4 linked regions of the Homo sapiens genome follow. The protein of the gene in region 4 purifies or fractionates together with the protein of the main gene of each other region. This does not show direct contact. Each region holds a gene or a part of one and is shown on either strand. Other genes may lie near its edges.

Region 1 (4,329 bases), on a different chromosome or scaffold from region 4:
TACTCTATGGCAATCTCCACACATTTGGGACTGAACAACATAATCCACCACAAACACTTGTTGAAGGATAGCACCATTCATCACCTGATAAAACAATTACACTCCTTCATTCTTTTGGTTTTGTTTAATAACAAATATTTTCTTTAAAGAAGAACCTTTAATATTTAATTTAAAACTTTTTCCATTAATGCTTTGAGGACATCAATCAAATGTCCTCAAATTTAAAGTCATAAAAACAAGTTATACTATTTCAAGAACGGTATACAGATTTAATTCCTAAGATTTATTAGATTAGCATTTCAAATTTTCCTTTAGCTGAAGTGGTTGTGAGAATATTCTGTGTATATTTTACATATATATATATATATATAATTTTTTTTGAGACAGGGTCTCACTCTGCCTGTTGCCCAGCCTGGAGTACAGTGGCACGATCTTGGTTCACTGCAACTTCTGCCTCCTGGGCTCAAGTGATTCTCCACCTCAGCCTCCCAAGTAGCACACACCACCACGTCCAGCTAACTTTTGTATTTTTAGTAGAGATGGGGTCTCGAACTCCAGGGCTCAAGTGATCTGCCTACCTTGGCCTCCCAAAGTGCTGGGATCACAGGTGTGAGCCACCATGCCCAGCCTATACATGTTTACATAGAAAAATCATCCTTAGAAGAAAAAAATAAGGAAAACTTCTCAAAAAAAAAATTCCTTAATTTAATGATTCCCAAACATAACTGATCAGAAATCACATGGGAAGCTTTTTAAATACAGATTGAACATTCCAAATCCAAAAACCCAGAATCTGAAATTTCAGCTTCAAAATCTGAAACTTCTTGAGTTTCTAAATGACACTCAAAGAAAATGTTCACTGGAACATTTTGTATTTGAATTAGGGATGTTCAACCAGTTAAGTATAATGCAAAATTCCAAAATCCAAAAAATCCAAAATCTGAAACACTTCTTGTCCCAAGCATTTCAGATAAGGGATACTCAACCTACTTATAGATTCCCGGCCTCACATACAGAGAATTTTTGCTTCAGTTATGATGAGTCATTACAATGATCAGCCAAGTTTGAGGATCAGTACCTTAGACCATGTTTTTACTTCAATCCTTTCCTAATAAAAATAACTCTGGAAAAGTAAGTCTGCTAATCAGAAGCAATGACTACTCTTACTAGTGATCTAATTATTTGTACAGATGCTCAAAAGAAAACAAACAGCTAAAATTGAGTGTACTCTTTTTCTTTTAAGCTGTTCAAGCCATAAAATAACTTATCACTGGGTCTTCATTTTCACTACCTGCACTTTAACCATGCTGAGAAAATTATGTACTGCTTACCTCTTTCTGAATAGTCAGTTTAACTTTAAGTCTCTTAGAATGAGGCTCAGTCCAAACAAAGCCTGCATCTACAAGCCGTACCTTCAATAAAACACAAACAAAAAGAAACGTAAGTTCTCACCTAGGAGGAAAAAAAACACGAAAGAACAAATCATCAATAAGCAGATTTCATAAGATGCTTAAGGAATCTGTGATCAGCATACTACACACCATCATCACAAAAAAAGATTAATCATTGGTTACGTAACAACAGCAGCAAATCAAAGGACAACCCAATGACTATATTAATGCAACTGATATAATTTAAGCAAAAATTAAAGTATTTGCATAGGAAAAAAATTCTTTTCCCTTAAAAAAAAAAAAAAAGTACATTGTCCTTTAAAAGGAAATTATATTTTTTGGAGGAAAGCAAAGACCTTGTGACCTCATTATTTATTAGTAACCTCATGAACAAAAGTTTCCACTTGGATTATTCTCTCTATATTCTGTGACTTTTTTTAAGAAGTGACATTGATTAGAGAAGTTGCATGCACTGAATACTAAATCCACAACTATAACTCACTACTAAATCTGCAGCATCTGCATAGGCCAAAACAGTTTGCTATATGTGAAGATCTGAATATAACTCAAGAATGGCCAGAATGGGTGTTTGGGGAGAAGGGGTGGGTGGGAGAACAAGAATGGAGGCTGCTGTAATAACCTGGGCCAGATTGTAGATGATCTGAACTGAGAGGCACTGGAAATAACAAAAGCAGATGCAAGGGCTAGTTAGGAGATAAAAATCTGTAAGATTTATCTGCACAGTCCAAGTGATGCAGAAAAAAAATCTGTAAGATTTAATGGTAACTGGATATGGAAAAGAGGAAGAGAACAGACTCCAGAATGATGCTCAAGTATTTGCTTAGACAACTAGGCAGTACACTTTTTGTGACTACCTATACCGAAATAAACAATGGATATAATGAGAAAAAGATGTTACATTTGATTTCAGACATTTCAGTTTAAGACAGTATCTGTGAGATACCCAAGAGGACTTTTCAGTGAACAGTAAGATACAATTGGTCTGGAGATCTATAAAAAAATTTGGGCTGCAGTTAACAGATTTGAGAGGTATCAGCAGCAGATTATACTTTTATCAAGCACTGTCTGGTAAAAAGTAGACTGGCCACTTTTAGTGTAGATGCAAAGATTCAACACACCAGAGTAAAACCCTCCTCATATAGCTGGCCTCCCTAAAACAAAGCCTAGTAGTTAACAAGTGATGCCAGGTACACAGGGTGATAGGCAGATTCCTATTCCTTCAATCTCCATCAGCAGTGGTTAAAAAAAAAAAAAAAAAAAAAGCCCCAAAGGCACTGAATAAGACTGATCTTCCCCTCAAGCTCCAACCTCCACCTGCAGGAATGGAGAGTCTCCTTGACATCCTGCTCGGCATTCCCCAACACAACCACTGCACTATGTGTCCTCAGACAACCATGACTAATCAACTTTATTAGTCCCTTTCTTTCTTTACCATAGTCCCAGACACCTCAGTCACCCCTATTTCCCATACTCCAATTTCCATATGGTTATGCATATTCCCTATTCTGTCCCCATCTAACACTCCTCCCCGAATCCTAAAACCCTTCTACTGTGCCCTCCGGAGCTCAACATTCATTAACAATGAAATCTCCTAAATCCTCAACTTTGCTGAACATTCCCTTCACCTTCTAGATCTCCTGATTTCTCTCTCCCCTGCAGCTATATAAAGTGATAACTGATTCTTCCTATCACTGGACCAGGCACCAGACAGCTATCGTCCTTGCTCTTCATTGCTAATTACAGACCATTCTCCTTGTCTCCTCCTCAAATATACCCAGCTCTAAGTCTAAAGTCATTAGACTCTACCACCCGCAACTCTCTTTTTTATAGTAATCTATTCATCTTTGTATCACTTGTTTTCATTTCTCAAAAGATTTTAGCTTCTGGCTCACCATCACACTTTCCAACAATATTAATACCTAGCGATTTCAATATCCACACAGGTGATCCCCACAATACCCTGACCTCTCACTCCATTCTTTGAGTTCTTCTTCTCCCAAAATATTATCCACCTTCCTATCTCAGTCACTCATATGCCTCTATTACCAGTAACTGCAAACCCTCCAAACTATCAATTCCAAACATCCTACTCCCTGACTACCACCTCCCATCTTTCCAGCTTATTTCCTCTAGTTCCTGGGCACCAAATATCTTTCAAGCTAATATAATGGACAATCCATTCATCCTACCAACTTTATTCCTCATTCCTCCTCACTAGCTTCAAAATCAATAATCAAAATTATTCTCATGTACACACTCAATTTCCTTGTTCCCTCTCTTATTTCACCTTAGCCACTAGGCTAAATTATAAATTTGGTTAAATCCAGTGCTCTGCCTGCTCTATGCCTTGACTATGTGGCTGACAGAACTACAGAAATAGATGCACACCACAGTGACTAGTCTAAACTTGTAACAGTAACCCTCAGCACTGCCCAGCACCCATCCAACACTGTCCTGGTGCATTTCCTCTAGTTCTAGAGGACTATTTCATATCTTCCGCTCTCTCCTCAAACATCTATCTAACAGCTCTTCCCACATAGCTACTGCCCACGCTTCTGTTTTCTCCAGTACAAAAGAAGGAACCAGAGGAGAATTCCCAGAAGCTCCCACTCAACACCTTCCCTGCTGTTACCACAGATGAATTATCCATACTCCCATCAAGATCAACCTCCAGAATGCCCCTCTAGAGAGCAGAGATCTTTACTTTGTTCCATGAAATATTACAGCCTCCCAAAATGGTGCTTGGTGAAGAGTAAGTGCTGAATACTTGTTGAATGAAGGAGTGAATTAACAAATAAATGTATTCTTTCACTATGTACTATATCTCTTTTCCACTTATTGAGGCCACCCCCCAGCCAATTATTCTTCTCCCTGCAATTTCACAAAAATTTCCCTCCGTACTCTAACACTCCCAGAG
Region 2 (4,329 bases), on a different chromosome or scaffold from region 4:
GTGCTGGTGGCGGGAAGGCCTGGGTGTCCTATGAGGTCTGCTGGGCCCCACCTCCCCCGACCCCCTCCCCGCCCCACAGTCTGAGGATCAAGAGGCCAGGAGATGCCCCTTTAGAGAGAAGAGGCAGAATCTGGAGCGCTGACTTTGAATCCCAGGCAGGGATCCACAAACGTTTCTCTTCCTGGACACCTACTGTGCACCCAGCACTGTGGACTCAGAAATGAGGGAGCCCCAGCCCTTCCAGGGCCCACAGCCGGGCAGGGGGGAAACATGAGCGCTACGCTCAGGCCGTGACCGCCTATTCCGTACACACTTGTAGAGAGTGTTTAGTATGTGTGGGCATCTGGCCATCCATTCTACACATGCTTGTGAAGTACCTACTATGTGCTGGTGTCGCCTGGCCTCTGGTGGTTCTGCTTGGTAGGGGAGCGCAGTGGGGGGTGAAGCACAGCCTTCATCTATCTACTGAACAAAGAGAAGCACCTACTATGCGCCAGGTGCAAGGTAATCCTTCCAGTGGGGATACGACGTGGGCCTGTGGGGTGTGCCCGCCACAGCCCACTGGCCTGGAGGACCTCCTGCTGCCTGCTCAGGACCTGCTGGCATGGGCTGGGCCTGGGGAGGGTGCCACCTTCTCATTCACATAAAATGGCCTTGCAGGGGGTGGGGGCTCTGGAGACAAGAGCCTGGGTCTGGGGTGTGTGTGGGACGGGGCGGGACCCACCTTCCCGGCTGCTCTGGGTACTTGTGCTTGCAGTAGGCCTCCAAGGACGCATAGACCTTCTCCCTCAGCGCCTCCACCTCGGCCGGGTTCGAGAGCCCCTTGGAGTCTGAAAGGAAGAAGCCACAGGTCAGAACCCTCAGCTGGGGCGTGTCTCGGGCACCTGCCCCCAGGACCCAGGCTTGTGTGGGGTCTCCCAGGCTGCCCCACCATGGGCAGAGCAGGTGGTGGAGGAATGCCGCTGGACATGCCTCCGCCCGCTCCCCCAGAGCCTGGTGGCAGGGGGACGACTGTGGAACCCACGGCCAGGCCAGGCTGCTCTGGGTCCAGGCTCAGCTCTGCCACTTGCCAGCCACGTGACCTTGGGTCAACTATTTGACCTCCAGAGACTCGGTTTCCCCATCGATAAAGTGTCAGGGATCTGCTGCCTTCCTTCCAGCCGCCTTGGGAACTGGGAGAGACAATGGATGCTGCTGCTGCCCTTGGGTCCCAGCCCCATAACATGGATGGGAGATAGCGCTGCTGCCCCCAGGAGTACCCAGACCCTGCGGAAACCCATCCTCGGTGTGCTTGCGGAGTCCTGAGCTCAGGACCCGGGCTCAAGAGCCTAGAGTGGACAGAGAGGCTAAGATTGCAGCCACCAAAACCTCCAAGGCCCAGGGACCCCCTGTGAATGCCACCTTGGCCCCCAAGGCCCAGGGACCCCCTGTGAATGCCACCTTGGCCTGTGTCCTGGGCTCCTTGGCAACGTACCTGGCTCCCCCAGCTGCCTCCGCTCCAGCCAGTCTCCTCGCCCTCCCTGCATGCCTGTGCCCTGGTCTCTTCGCTTTCCCTGCAAGCCTGTGCCTGGACCCTGCTTGTGCCAGACAATCTCACCCTCCCTGCAAGCCGGTGCCCAGGTCCTGCTGGTGCCCCAGCTCTAGCAACCAGACCACACAGGACCTGAATGGGGATTCCTCGGGCCGGGCCGGGCCGTGGCATGACTCAGCCTCCGAGCTGGCAGGATTACGGCCCGGATGCACAGCCTGGGTGATAAAATGACCCTGGAAACAAGCTCTCCCCACAAGAAGATGCCCATCTCCATCCCGGCCCGGTCCCTCAGAGCCAGGTCTGACAAAGGGCAAGGTCAGAAGGTCAGGGCCAGGAGCCGAGAGGGCTCCACTCCCTCCACCATAGCCCAAGTGAGCTCCCCACAGCAGCCCCAAACCTCTCCCTCCACACCCCAGCCACCTGCCCCTATCACGCAATGAGCTGAGTTTCCAAACACAGAAACCCATAGCTCCCTCCCGGCTGGAACCCCTCAGGACTTGGCTCCCTGTGGCCCCAAGAAAAAACCCAAACTTAGCAAGACTTTCAAGGCCCTGCCTGGGCTGCCTCCACCAGCCCACCCCACCTCCGTGCCTCTCACTCCCCTGGCCCCTAACTTGCAGCTCCCGGAGGAAGTGGCCCGCACCCTCGACCAACCGTGCTCCTGCCCTCACGTGCCGGGGGTGCCTGCTGGTGGGCGTGACCCTCTAAACCCCAAGCTCTAGGCAGGCAAGCCCTATCCAGCAGCTTGAAGGGGCCCTCCCATGCCAGCAGGGCACCGAGCAAACAGGCACGTGTCAGCACTTGTTGGGCGAAGGAGTAGCACCTAGGAGGCTTTTCAAGCCGAGAACCCAGAGGCTGGAGAAGGGCCGCACTGTCGGCCAGGAGGCCTGTGCCCAGCCCCAGCCCCACAGCCCCAAGCCCTGCTCTCCTCAACCACAGGGGCCCAGCCCCAGAAACACCCTGGACCCGAGGCTTGGGGATGAGGTTGGTCCCCTCTGGAACACCCGGCAGGCCTGACCCATCCCCAGCCTGCAGGGCTTGGGACTCCTGAACTTCAGCACCGGAAGTTCACAACCACAGCTGGCCACTTTCGGAGTCTGGATTCCGACGCACAGTGATGAACACTATGAACCGCGGAGCCCAGACGGCACCACCAAGCCCCTCATGACAACTGCCTTGCTGGGTCCCCCTGTGCCCAGGGACCATGCCCCCTTGGCTGGCCCTCAAGGTGAGCAGAAGGCAGCATGGCCACACTTTCACTGGGAGGGGGGCACACTGAGCTCAAGGAGGGTGGGAGTTGGCCCCACATGTAGCCAGAGGCAAGAAGTACAGCCAGGAGGAGGCCCAGGCACCTCTGCCCCACCAGAGAACGGGGCCAGAAGCCTCAAGGCAGGAAGGCCATACCAGGGTTAAAGAGGACGATGGCGCGCAGGCAGCCCAGCTCCGTCTTGTCCATCTGCATGTCCCGCATCTTGGACACAAGCTCCGTCAGCACCCTGCAGAGGAGGAGGGCAGACACCCCATCCCAGTTAGGTCGCAGCCCTCACCAGGGCCACACCCCAGATACCCAAGGCCTCTGGAGAGCCCGGCGTGGCCCGAGGGCCGCTGAGATGGGCCAAGCCAAGGCAAGGACTCCCAGACACCCCGAGAGGGAGTGGGCTGGAACCCAGGCCCAGGTGCCGCCCCTGCCAGGCCTGCCTGGCCCTGCCCGGAGGGTGGGCTCCTCTCCTCTCCCTCTAGGGTCTGCCTGCGGGGCTTTATTCTGGGAACCGAGGTGCTAAGGAGGGGCCTCGTGACAGCTAAACTGAGGTGAGCCGCAGCTGCACAGAGGGCACAGAGTCCACCCCTCCCGAACCCAGTGAGACACACCACTGTCCCTCCTCAGCTGTGGACCCAGCACCACCTGAGGCAAAGCCCCTTCCCATGCCACAGCCCCAGCCGCTCCCTTCAGTCCAGGAAGATACCTTTCCCCAGGGCCTGGTGTCCCTGGGTGGGGGCTGCCAGAGGGAGGCATGTCTACTTCTTGTCACCAGAGAAAAAAAATCCACCAGCCTCAACACGGGGAAAGCCCGCCAGCTCCCTCCATGGAGACGCTGGGGGCGTTCTTGGATTCAGACTCAGCTGCCCCAGCCCTGCAGCTGGATTCTGAATCACACCAGCCTCTGCAGTGTACTGGGCCCCCTAGCCTCAGCAGCCTGCCCACCAACCCCAAAGCTCAACTGCTGTGTCCAGGAAGTAAGGGTGGGCCACAGCGGGGGAAAGGAGGTGACCAGGTGGGGATGGTTGCCTAAGGAGCCTGGGCTCTCCCCTGTGGGCCAAGGGCGGCCCTGAGGGTCTGCAGAATGGGGAGTGCCCTGGTTGATTCCTGGAAGAAGATCTGAAGGAGGCTGGAGAACAGGGTGGGACAGAACAGGAGCTGGGAGGGACCCCCGATGTCTGCTCTGAGGCAGGAGCACACAGCTGCAGAGGGATGGGGCAGCGGGCATGGAAAAGACCTGGGCCACTGAGGGCAGACTTTGCATTCCACTCGCAAAAAAGGCGAGGAAATGCCGGGGCCTCTGTAGTCACTGCTGTGGGACCCCAGAGAATGTAACCCTGAAACCTCTGTCATCGCCATCTCTCTACCAGCCAGACAAAGGATCTGTCAGCTGGGCAAGTGGCTGGGGCTTCGCTTCCCAAAGCCATATCCCCAGTACCCCTCTAAAGAAGCTTCTGTGGGCAATACACACTGCACACTGCACCCTGCAGCCCCCGTGGGGACCCTCCTGTACACTAACTTCTTAAAGGCCCTGACAAGT
Region 3 (4,329 bases), on a different chromosome or scaffold from region 4:
CTTTTGAAATCTGGCTTGTAAGCTGCTTGCTATTTCAAATTTATATGGATGCTTTCACCTCTCCCCGCTTAACATTGAATACATGTCCTCCACTCTTTGCCAGCTTAGTTCTTTCTTTCCAATAATTTAGGTGCTTGGATGAGGTCCTTAGCCTAGGTTATTAAAAAGGAAGAGCTGAACAGATCTTATCAGAAGTTTGTTTCAGATTATCAGGAATATGGAATGAGGGTGAGATTTTAAAATACTCTTATGAACTTAAATAATTTTAAAATATATGCTCAATTGGATTATACTGTATCTTGTAAATTATAGAAGTAAATAATTCAAATTTTGTTATTTGCATAGAAAATAAACATCATTGATTGAGAAGGAAAAACAAACTGAAAAGTAAGCTTTCAGATTTCTCTCTCTTCCTGATTATCAAATAAACTCAAGTAATGTTGTCTAAATCAAAATATGAAACAACTTTTCAACAGAGACTTACGTCTTTTTCCTAAATCCTACCCTTTCCCACACAATTTTTTGAAGAACAGGATAATGGTAGCTCTATATATACAAATTATCTCTTTATTCTTCTACCTAAATGAGTGAATTTTGATATGAAAACAATAAACACATATAGAGAAAAAATAAATTAGTCTAACCTTTAAGAAAATATTCATAAAAAGCTCAAATTGCAACTAAATTTCCTAATCCAGGAAGACACATGCACAAATCACCATGGCTTTTCTAACTTAATGTATACTGGAGTCACTTATTCTACTAAGGACCCATATTTGAGGGTCTTACCATCTAACGAACTGATTACCATATACAACTGACTAGATGACGTGCAAGGCCAAACAGAATTAACTATAAATTCTGGTCTGCTGCCAACAGTATCTGCAGTTCCACATACTTAGTCTCTCTTAGTAATCACCCTTCTTTAAAGAGAAACTAAGATGAGCGCTGATGGAGGGGGGTGTCCAATGGTGTACAGTAAGTTTGAGACTCACCAGGAACTTATTTTACACTATGAGAAATGACATGAAGATAATGGCATTTTGAAGAATCCTAGCATTTCCTGAAAGGCTATGTAGCTATCTTGAGTCTATTTTCCATTTGTATTTCCCTTTCTTGATTCTTCTTTTTAAGTGGTTAGTTCCCTAATCTTGAAGTTCTCTACTTTCTTAAAATTATTTGTTGTTATTGTTGTTGCTTTAGTTTTTCCATTTTTCTGGAAATCCTGAACTGTATTAAGCTAGGGTTACCTTTGCAGACTTCCCCTCTAGATTTAGATAATCAACTAGCTTTTTAACCTAGTATAAATATCTACTCAACTAGACTAAATTTCCTGAGAACTAGGATCTCCAGTGTATGATAGATACATAGTAGGCACTAAATTATATCTGTTGTAAGAATGAATGAATTCAGTATCATTTAAAGGGTCTACACCTAATTTAATTAGTCTCCACATTTATCACCAAAAAGTAGCAGCTAGTAGAAATGATGAGTTTACTGAAGTGTCACAACAACCTGTTATGTTCCAGAGACTATGGCAGGCATTCACTTTATAGGATTATTACATAAGTTTCTGGCTTTAAAGAGTTCAGAGTCTATCAGGGAACCCAGATCAGTAAAAGAACAATGGAAATACCATTGATATTCATTGATAGAGTGATACCAGTGAAACTTAAAATAAAATTCAACATAAGTTTTATAACCTTAAACTGACAGATACCTGCATTTCTTCTGCACATGTTCATATCTGCAACCTGTCTCCATGCGTTAGTGGTGGGATCATATACTTCAACACTTTTTCGTACTAAAGGGCCATCATGACCTCCTACAGCATACAATAAATTGTTTAACACACCAACACCTATAAAACACAACCAGCCAAATAGAGGGGCAAAAAGAACAAGAGATTTATATCATATTAGGTTTATTTAAATGACTTGTAACTAAAACTTTCGAAGTTATAATTCATAATAAAAGCAAGCTGATACTATAGCCTACAATTTAAGAAATGGAAATCAATACAATTGATGATTAAATAAGCATCTCAACAAACTATTATTCTGAAAAAAGAGGCATGTCAAACAGAATAAAAATATTAATAACATGTAGGTGAAACACAGGGAGGGAAAAAGTCCTTTAATGTAATCCTTTTGAAAACAATATCCATAGTAAAATAACCGCATATTAAAGCACAAAATTTTAAGAAATATACATGAAAAGACTTGATTATTAAGCAAGTTCCCCAATAAGCACTAAAAACAAAAAACTAAAAGGAGTGCTAACAACTTGAATATATAAATGAAACAGAAATGTCTATGGCACTTAGACATTAAATTTTAAAGTAAAATTACTTTGTAATTACTCCCATTACCTGCACAATTCAAAAGACATTTAGCAGTGCCACTAAAATCAGCATATCATATATTTTCAGATAATGTAAAGTGATGCCACTGAATCATTTTACTTTAACTATTTTCCATCATTTTTGTGCTTCAGTTGCTAAAACAGGTTCACATGTACCTGCTCCACTCCGCCTGGTGCTCATTTCTGCTATATAGGTCCACTCATTTGTTGTAGCATTATAGCATTCTACTGTGCTAAGACACTGACGTGATGCTCCATCATAACCTCCTACAGCATAGAGCAAACCTACACATAAAATCACATAGAAAGCCAAATTTATTAAAAAACAAACAAACAAAAAACACTAATTTTTCAAGCCAGAAAATATTAATATATTTTCCTTCATGGCAGCAGAGTTTCCCCTTAAAGTGCTGCTGATTTTTATGAAATATATTAGGGTCTTGCCTAATGGTGACAGATGGGGTAATCAAATCATGTTATGAAGATCTGCAGGGTATAGCTGATGATGTTAATTTTATACTTTCATCAATAATCTGATAAAATAGCACACTCATTATATCTTTAGGTAACACTATTTGATAAGTGAACAACATCCTGTAAGACAGAATTAAATACCAAAGTTATCTTAGGAAATCGGAAAAAAGGTTAAATCAAAAATTAATAACAGAATGCAATGCAATATTACTTGGCATTAAAAAGGCATGAAGTACTAATAAATGCCTCAGTATAAATAAACAAATCTTGAAAACATCACCCTAAGCCAAAGAAGTGAGTCACCAAAGATCACATACTGTATGACTAAAATATTCAGAAGAGGCAAATCTCTAAGTGATAGAAAGTAGACTAGCAGTTGCTGAAGGTTGGGTAAGATACGAGTAAGAGCCAAGGGAAGCAGGATTGCTTTTAGAGGATAATAAAAATGTTTTAAAATGAATTGCAGTGATGGATGCACAATGAACTGTATACATGAAATGGGTGAATTGTATGATGTGGATTATATCACAATAAAGCTGTTTTTTTCTAAGTGCACAGATTACACCTACGATGAGGAGGGGGTGGAAACCTGCAAATTTGCCCAAGTCAATTAAAAAAAAATAATAATAATAATACTTAGAGCCTTCCTTAACTTCTGTTGGGAGACAAAGTAGGATATAAATAAATAACTGTGGCAATCCATCCCTTAACAGCCCTTCTCCAGATATAAAATTACACATTTATGTCACCTGAATTGTTCCCCCAAGCAACTGTTAAAATCAGTTGACAGTCTTATACAGCAGCAGTCCCCAAACCGCAGGCCATGGACCGGTACCTGTCTGGAACCTGTTAGGAACCGGGCTGCACAACAGGAGGTGAGCGGCAGGTGAGCAAGTATTACAGCTGAGCTCTACTTCCTGTCAGATCAGCAGCGGCATTAGATTCTCACAGAAGTGTGAACCCTATCTTGAAATGCACATTTGAGGGACCTAGGTTGTGCACTCCTTATGACACTCTAATGCCTGATGATCTGAGGTGGGAACAGTTTCATCCCAAAACCATCCCCCCAACCCACCCCTGTCCATGGAAAAATTGTCTTCCACAAAACCAGTCCCTAGTGCCAAAAAGGTTGGGGACTGCTGTTATATAAGTCAAACACACACGTGTTATATAAGTCAAACACACACAGTTATATAAGTCAAACACACACACACACACACACACACACACACACACACAGAGAGAAAGGAGGAGGGATAAAGGGAGGGGGATAGAGAGGGAGAGAAAAGGCTTTATATAGGTTGATTTATATAGAGAAGCTAATTTTAAAAAGAGGATAACTGAAATTTTACAGTAATTACGACTTTTCTTTTTAAAATGATAATTAGCTTGCCCATTCAGAAAACTAAAGTTGAGATTACTGGAAGAACCACTCTCAAGGATCAAAATGCCACATGTACCTGAAAGAACTGTCAACACCTACCTCCAACA
Region 4 (4,329 bases):
GAGTGAGTACACATTAACTCTTAGAAGAATGCCTGGCACACAGCAAAATCGATGCAAGTATTTACTTGAAAATAAAAATGTAGCGACTGAACAGGACTTTCCTTGAACCCACCTTCTTCCTGAATTCTGGAATGTTCATGTTGGAGGGGACTTTGGGATTGCCTTGGCCACAGTTGCAGGTGTGTGTGTGGTGTCCAGCATCCAGCATGAGGAAAGTGTCATTGCTATAAGAGAGGAGAACCTTGGGCCAGGCGCAGTGACTCACACCTGTAATCCCAGCACTTTGGGAGGCTGAGGCGGGTGGATCACTTGAGGTCAGGAGTTCGAGACCAGCCTGGCCAACATGGTGAAACCCTGTCTCTACTAAAAATACAAAAATTAGCCGGGCATGGTGACATGTGCCTGTAATCCCAGCTACATGAGAGGATGAGGAAGGAGAATTGCTTGAACCTGGGAGGCAGAGGTTGCAGTGAGCCGAGATCACACCACTGCACTCTGGCCTGGGCCACAGGGCGAGACTCCTTCCCCTCCTGCCCCTGCCAAAAAAAAAAAAAAAAAAAAAAAGAAAAGAGAACCGCTTTCTCTGCTGACGCCCCTGTAGATACATCCCGAGCTTTGGCCCTAGCTTATCTCTCTAGCCTGTTTCTAGAGCACTGAGCTAAGTCCCCCCAAAGCAAAATGCATTTGGAGGGGGTGGGATGGCAGCAGGCGAGGTTGAATGTTCTTTGAATAAAAGACTTTAAACAGGGCAATCTGAGTTTGGGACTTTATATGTCAACATGCCCATTTTCCCTGATTGGGCCTTTTCAGTTTAAGGAGCCTTATTTTCATTTCAATTCAGATGATTATAATCTCAGCAGTGGCTCAGCTTGTTGCTCCCAGAATAATACGCTTTGCTTTAGTTTCAAAACTTGTTTGCAGAAAAATAAAGCCAAGCAGCCAGCCTGCAATGAACCTTGGGTACTCTGGTGCCGGGCAGGTTAAGATTCTCCTTTTCAAAGCCTACTGGGTGAATGACTGATGTGGGGCCTCGGGACCAGGTTCTGTACTCCTACAGGATGAAGTTTGGCCAGACACTAAATGGGGCATCTGGCTTGGTACTGGGGGCCAGTTCCTCACCTCCCTGAACCCCACTTCCTCATCTCAGAAATGGGAATGTTACTGCAGACAGCCAGATATGGTTGTTGTGAGGATGAATAGAAATTAATTGCGATAATAGACATACTTAGCACAGTGCTGGCACGTGGGACATTCTCAATAAATGGAGCTGTTAATATTGTTAGCACTTGTGGCACTAATTAGTACTAATTCTTATTATTGGCAAAATAGTGCTTTTGTTTAACAACTTTATTGAAGTATAATTTGCATACCATAAAATTCACTTGTTTGAAGTGAGCAACTCAGCCAGTCTTTGGTAAGTTTACAGAGCTGTGCAGTCTTCACCCACAGTCTAGTTTTAGACCATTTCCCTCATGTCAGAAGGATCCCTGTCACCTGTGCAGCCAGTCCCTGCTCCCATCTCCAGCCTCGGACAGCTGCTAACCTGCCTTCTGTCTCAGATGCGCCTTATTCTGGACATCTCATGTCAGTGGCATAATAGTGCTTTCTCCCATTAGTTTTTCTCATCCACTCCTCCCAGTGATTCCCTTTTTTCAGATGCGTAAAGTGAGTGGTTAAGAGGAATGTTCAGGGCATGGATGAATTCATAGAGGAGCTGGGAGGGCTCTGGCTCTGAGTGAGTGTCTTCTGGTCTTCAGGTGGTGTGAAAGGTTTAGGAGCAAATGAACCCTGGCAGAAATATCTGTTCAGGCTTGTCCTAGGGACAAGAGTGATAGTGGTTTCACCTGCCCAGTTGTTGAGACTTCTCCACACATCAGTTGCTGGGTGGGTTCCAGCCAGTTCCTGTGTCTCTCTGAACCCTGATGAGCCCCTCCCAGAAATGCAAATCATGGGCCAGCCCCAGCCCTCTTCACAAGGCAGGCTCCAAGGAGATCAAGTCCTGAGGACCCTGGAGGCTTTACACGTGGGCCTCTCCCCTTCTTACCCACGCAGGAGTGGTCTTATTTGACTGTTTGGCCCCCAGAAGCTGGTCCAGGCCCACATCACGATCAAGGGGCCTGAATGTGGACAGTCCTGGCATCAGTCTCTGGCACTGTCATTTCCCAGAGCAAGTCTCTGAGGCCGTGCCTCAGTTTCCTCGTCTGTCCAGTGGGAGTGGACCTGGCCACTCATTTGCAGTTGTGAGAAAGCACTTAGCACTGAGTGCTGGGCACACAGGAAGGGCTCAGTGGCAGTTTGAGTGAGTCTGAGTGAAGACATCAAAATAATAAGAAGCCAGTCCAGCCTGGCCTGGAGCGGGGGCCGAGTAGGTCCCCTGGCCCCAGCCATCTCCTCCCTGGGGTCCCTTTTGTCTGTGCCCCAGAGAGCCCAGCTGGCAAGAGCTGGGAATTGGCAGGCAGGGGCTGGGGCGCCTCCCACTGCATCTCATCTGGGGAGCTGGCCACGACTGCTGCATCCTTCCCGTCTGCCGAGCCCGTCATGTGAGGCCCCCGGGGGAGAAGGTGCTGGTGCTCTGGGAGGGTGTTCCAGGAGGCCCCTTGAGCTGGGCTGGGGAGCTGGGCTTCAGAGGTGGGTTGGCTGCCGGAAGCCTTGCAGTCGGGAGCTTTGGAGAACTGCGAGCTTCGGAGAGCCGCATGCATCCCGGTTGAGCTGTGCCAATGGTGCCAGGGGGGTCAGGTGGATCTTCACACAATCAGCGCTGCGGGGGCCAGGGGGTGGGGGCGGGGCCTAGGACCAGGCTCAGCCCCAGCTGTGAGGGACCCCTCAAGACCCCCCAATCAGCCTTTGTTCTCTCTTTAAGTCTTAGGATCGGCCTGGGACAGCAGAGGCAGCTTGTGTGGAGAGCCTTGTAGGGAAACCACAGGTCTGTGATGTGTGTGTGTGTGTGTCTGCAGGTGAATGTGTGTACATGAGCGTGTGCATGTATATTTAAGTTTGTGAGTGATAGTGTGAGTGTGTGGGAGTGATGGTGTGAATGAATGTGTGTGATGGTGGGTGTTGTGTGTGTATGTAGGTAGGCGTGTGTATGCGCATCTGTGTGCCAGTGTTCACCCGTGCTGGGAGCATGGTGCGCCTGCCCCATCCCTTCCTGAAGGTCTGGGCTGCCTCTGGGCCAAGGTTACGTCTGGGTTACGTCTGTGAGGCTCTTCTGAAGACTCAGCCAGGCTGGCTGGCGGCTGGAGAGGCGGGGGCAGTGGTTTATTTCCTCGGGGTTACAAGAGCAAGGTCAGCGGAGCCGAATCTGAGCTTTTGTTTGTCTCTCCCCTGCCCGCAGCAGCCTGCGGTCTGTTTCATTCATTATTAAGTTTTAAATCCAGCCGAAGAGAAACTTGAGCCTTGGAACTCACTCCCTGCCCGGGCTGGCTCTGCTCGGCCCCCGCCGGGGAATGTCTCTAGCTTTATTCACTGTGTCCTGTGTGCCTTTGTTTTCCCAGAAACGGCCTACCCTTAGGTTTGTTTAGTTTTCCTCTGAGGCTAGCCGGGCCAGCAAACGAGGGGGGTTGTGGGGGCTGTCCCCAGGGAGGGTGGGACTGGCTGGAGTCTGTACAAGGATTGTCTCTTCCTTGCCTTTGCAGTGGGGTTAAGGGTCCGCCTGGGTCTGAGCTCTGTGGCCTTCCATGTCCTCATTCATCCTCCAATCACTGTCACCATCTCTCCATCTGTCTTGATCCTGGGTGGGGTTGGGGCAAATCCAGGGGTGCAGTGGGAACAAAGAAAACAAGGGTCTCAGGATGGCCTGGGCCAGGAAACCCACAGATGCCTCTTCAGTGCCCTAGGTTCCCTTCCCACCTGAGCACTGAAGTCTGCTGTCTCTTGCCCTGTGATTTCACACCTCCTATGTCTTGTCTACCACCTGAAGCAGCAGCTTCCAGCTCCATCAGTCCACCCATACCCAGAGAATGGTGCATTCTATGGCCAATCTGATAAGGGCATTTTTGTTGTTGCAAAATTTTGCCTGTGTTCATAAGGACCAGTGGGATTTCCTTCCCTCCAGGATTAGGGATTTGAGGGGAGTTGACTCCCAGGTGTGGATCAAGTGACAGGACTTGTCTTCCTTTTGGCCTATGGGACTGGTGGTCTGTGAGTTCGTTTCCAGTGACTTTGTCCAGGCTGCCCCTCCTTTCCCTATCAGGAAAGTGGCCGAGAGCCTCCCCTCTGATGGGGGGTATCATGTCCTGCCAGGTCCAGGCAAGTGTTGTGAAGGGAAAAGGCGCTCCCCCTTCATTATCTGCCGCCCCTCTGGCGTGCCCTCTGCAGACAGGAAGGCCC

What was found.
Region 1: the proteins of ZNF423 (region 4) and NMD3 purify together in Homo sapiens (affinity purification with mass spectrometry; one large-scale study listed by BioGRID and IntAct). This does not show direct contact.
Region 2: the proteins of ZNF423 (region 4) and RXRA purify together in Homo sapiens (pull-down; one study listed by IntAct). This does not show direct contact.
Region 3: the proteins of ZNF423 (region 4) and KLHL2 purify together in Homo sapiens (affinity purification with mass spectrometry; one large-scale study listed by BioGRID and IntAct). This does not show direct contact.

What each region holds. Positions count from the first base shown.
Region 1 is NC_000003.12:161,230,482-161,234,810, reverse strand, and holds part of NMD3 (60S ribosomal export protein NMD3), read right to left. Parts: intron 1,413-4,329; coding exon 1,332-1,412; intron 85-1,331; coding exon 1-84. UniProt on the Homo sapiens protein: Acts as an adapter for the XPO1/CRM1-mediated export of the 60S ribosomal subunit.
Region 2 is NC_000009.12:134,430,603-134,434,931, reverse strand, and holds part of RXRA (retinoic acid receptor RXR-alpha), read right to left. Parts: intron 3,028-4,329; coding exon 2,936-3,027; intron 831-2,935; coding exon 725-830; intron 1-724. UniProt on the Homo sapiens protein: Receptor for retinoic acid that acts as a transcription factor.
Region 3 is NC_000004.12:165,311,558-165,315,886, reverse strand, and holds part of KLHL2 (kelch-like protein 2), read right to left. Parts: coding exon 4,322-4,329; intron 2,959-4,321; coding exon of another isoform or gene 2,936-2,958; exon of another isoform or gene 2,811-2,935; intron 2,650-2,810; coding exon 2,521-2,649; intron 1,862-2,520; coding exon 1,721-1,861; intron 1-1,720. UniProt on the Homo sapiens protein: Substrate-specific adapter of a BCR (BTB-CUL3-RBX1) E3 ubiquitin ligase complex that mediates the ubiquitination of target proteins, such as NPTXR, WNK1, WNK3 and WNK4, leading most often to their proteasomal degradation.
Region 4 is NC_000016.10:49,639,037-49,643,365, reverse strand, and holds part of ZNF423 (zinc finger protein 423), read left to right. Parts: intron 1-2,865; exon of another isoform or gene 2,866-2,923; intron 2,924-4,329. UniProt on the Homo sapiens protein: Transcription factor that can both act as an activator or a repressor depending on the context. Plays a central role in BMP signaling and olfactory neurogenesis. Associates with SMADs in response to BMP2 leading to activate transcription of BMP target genes.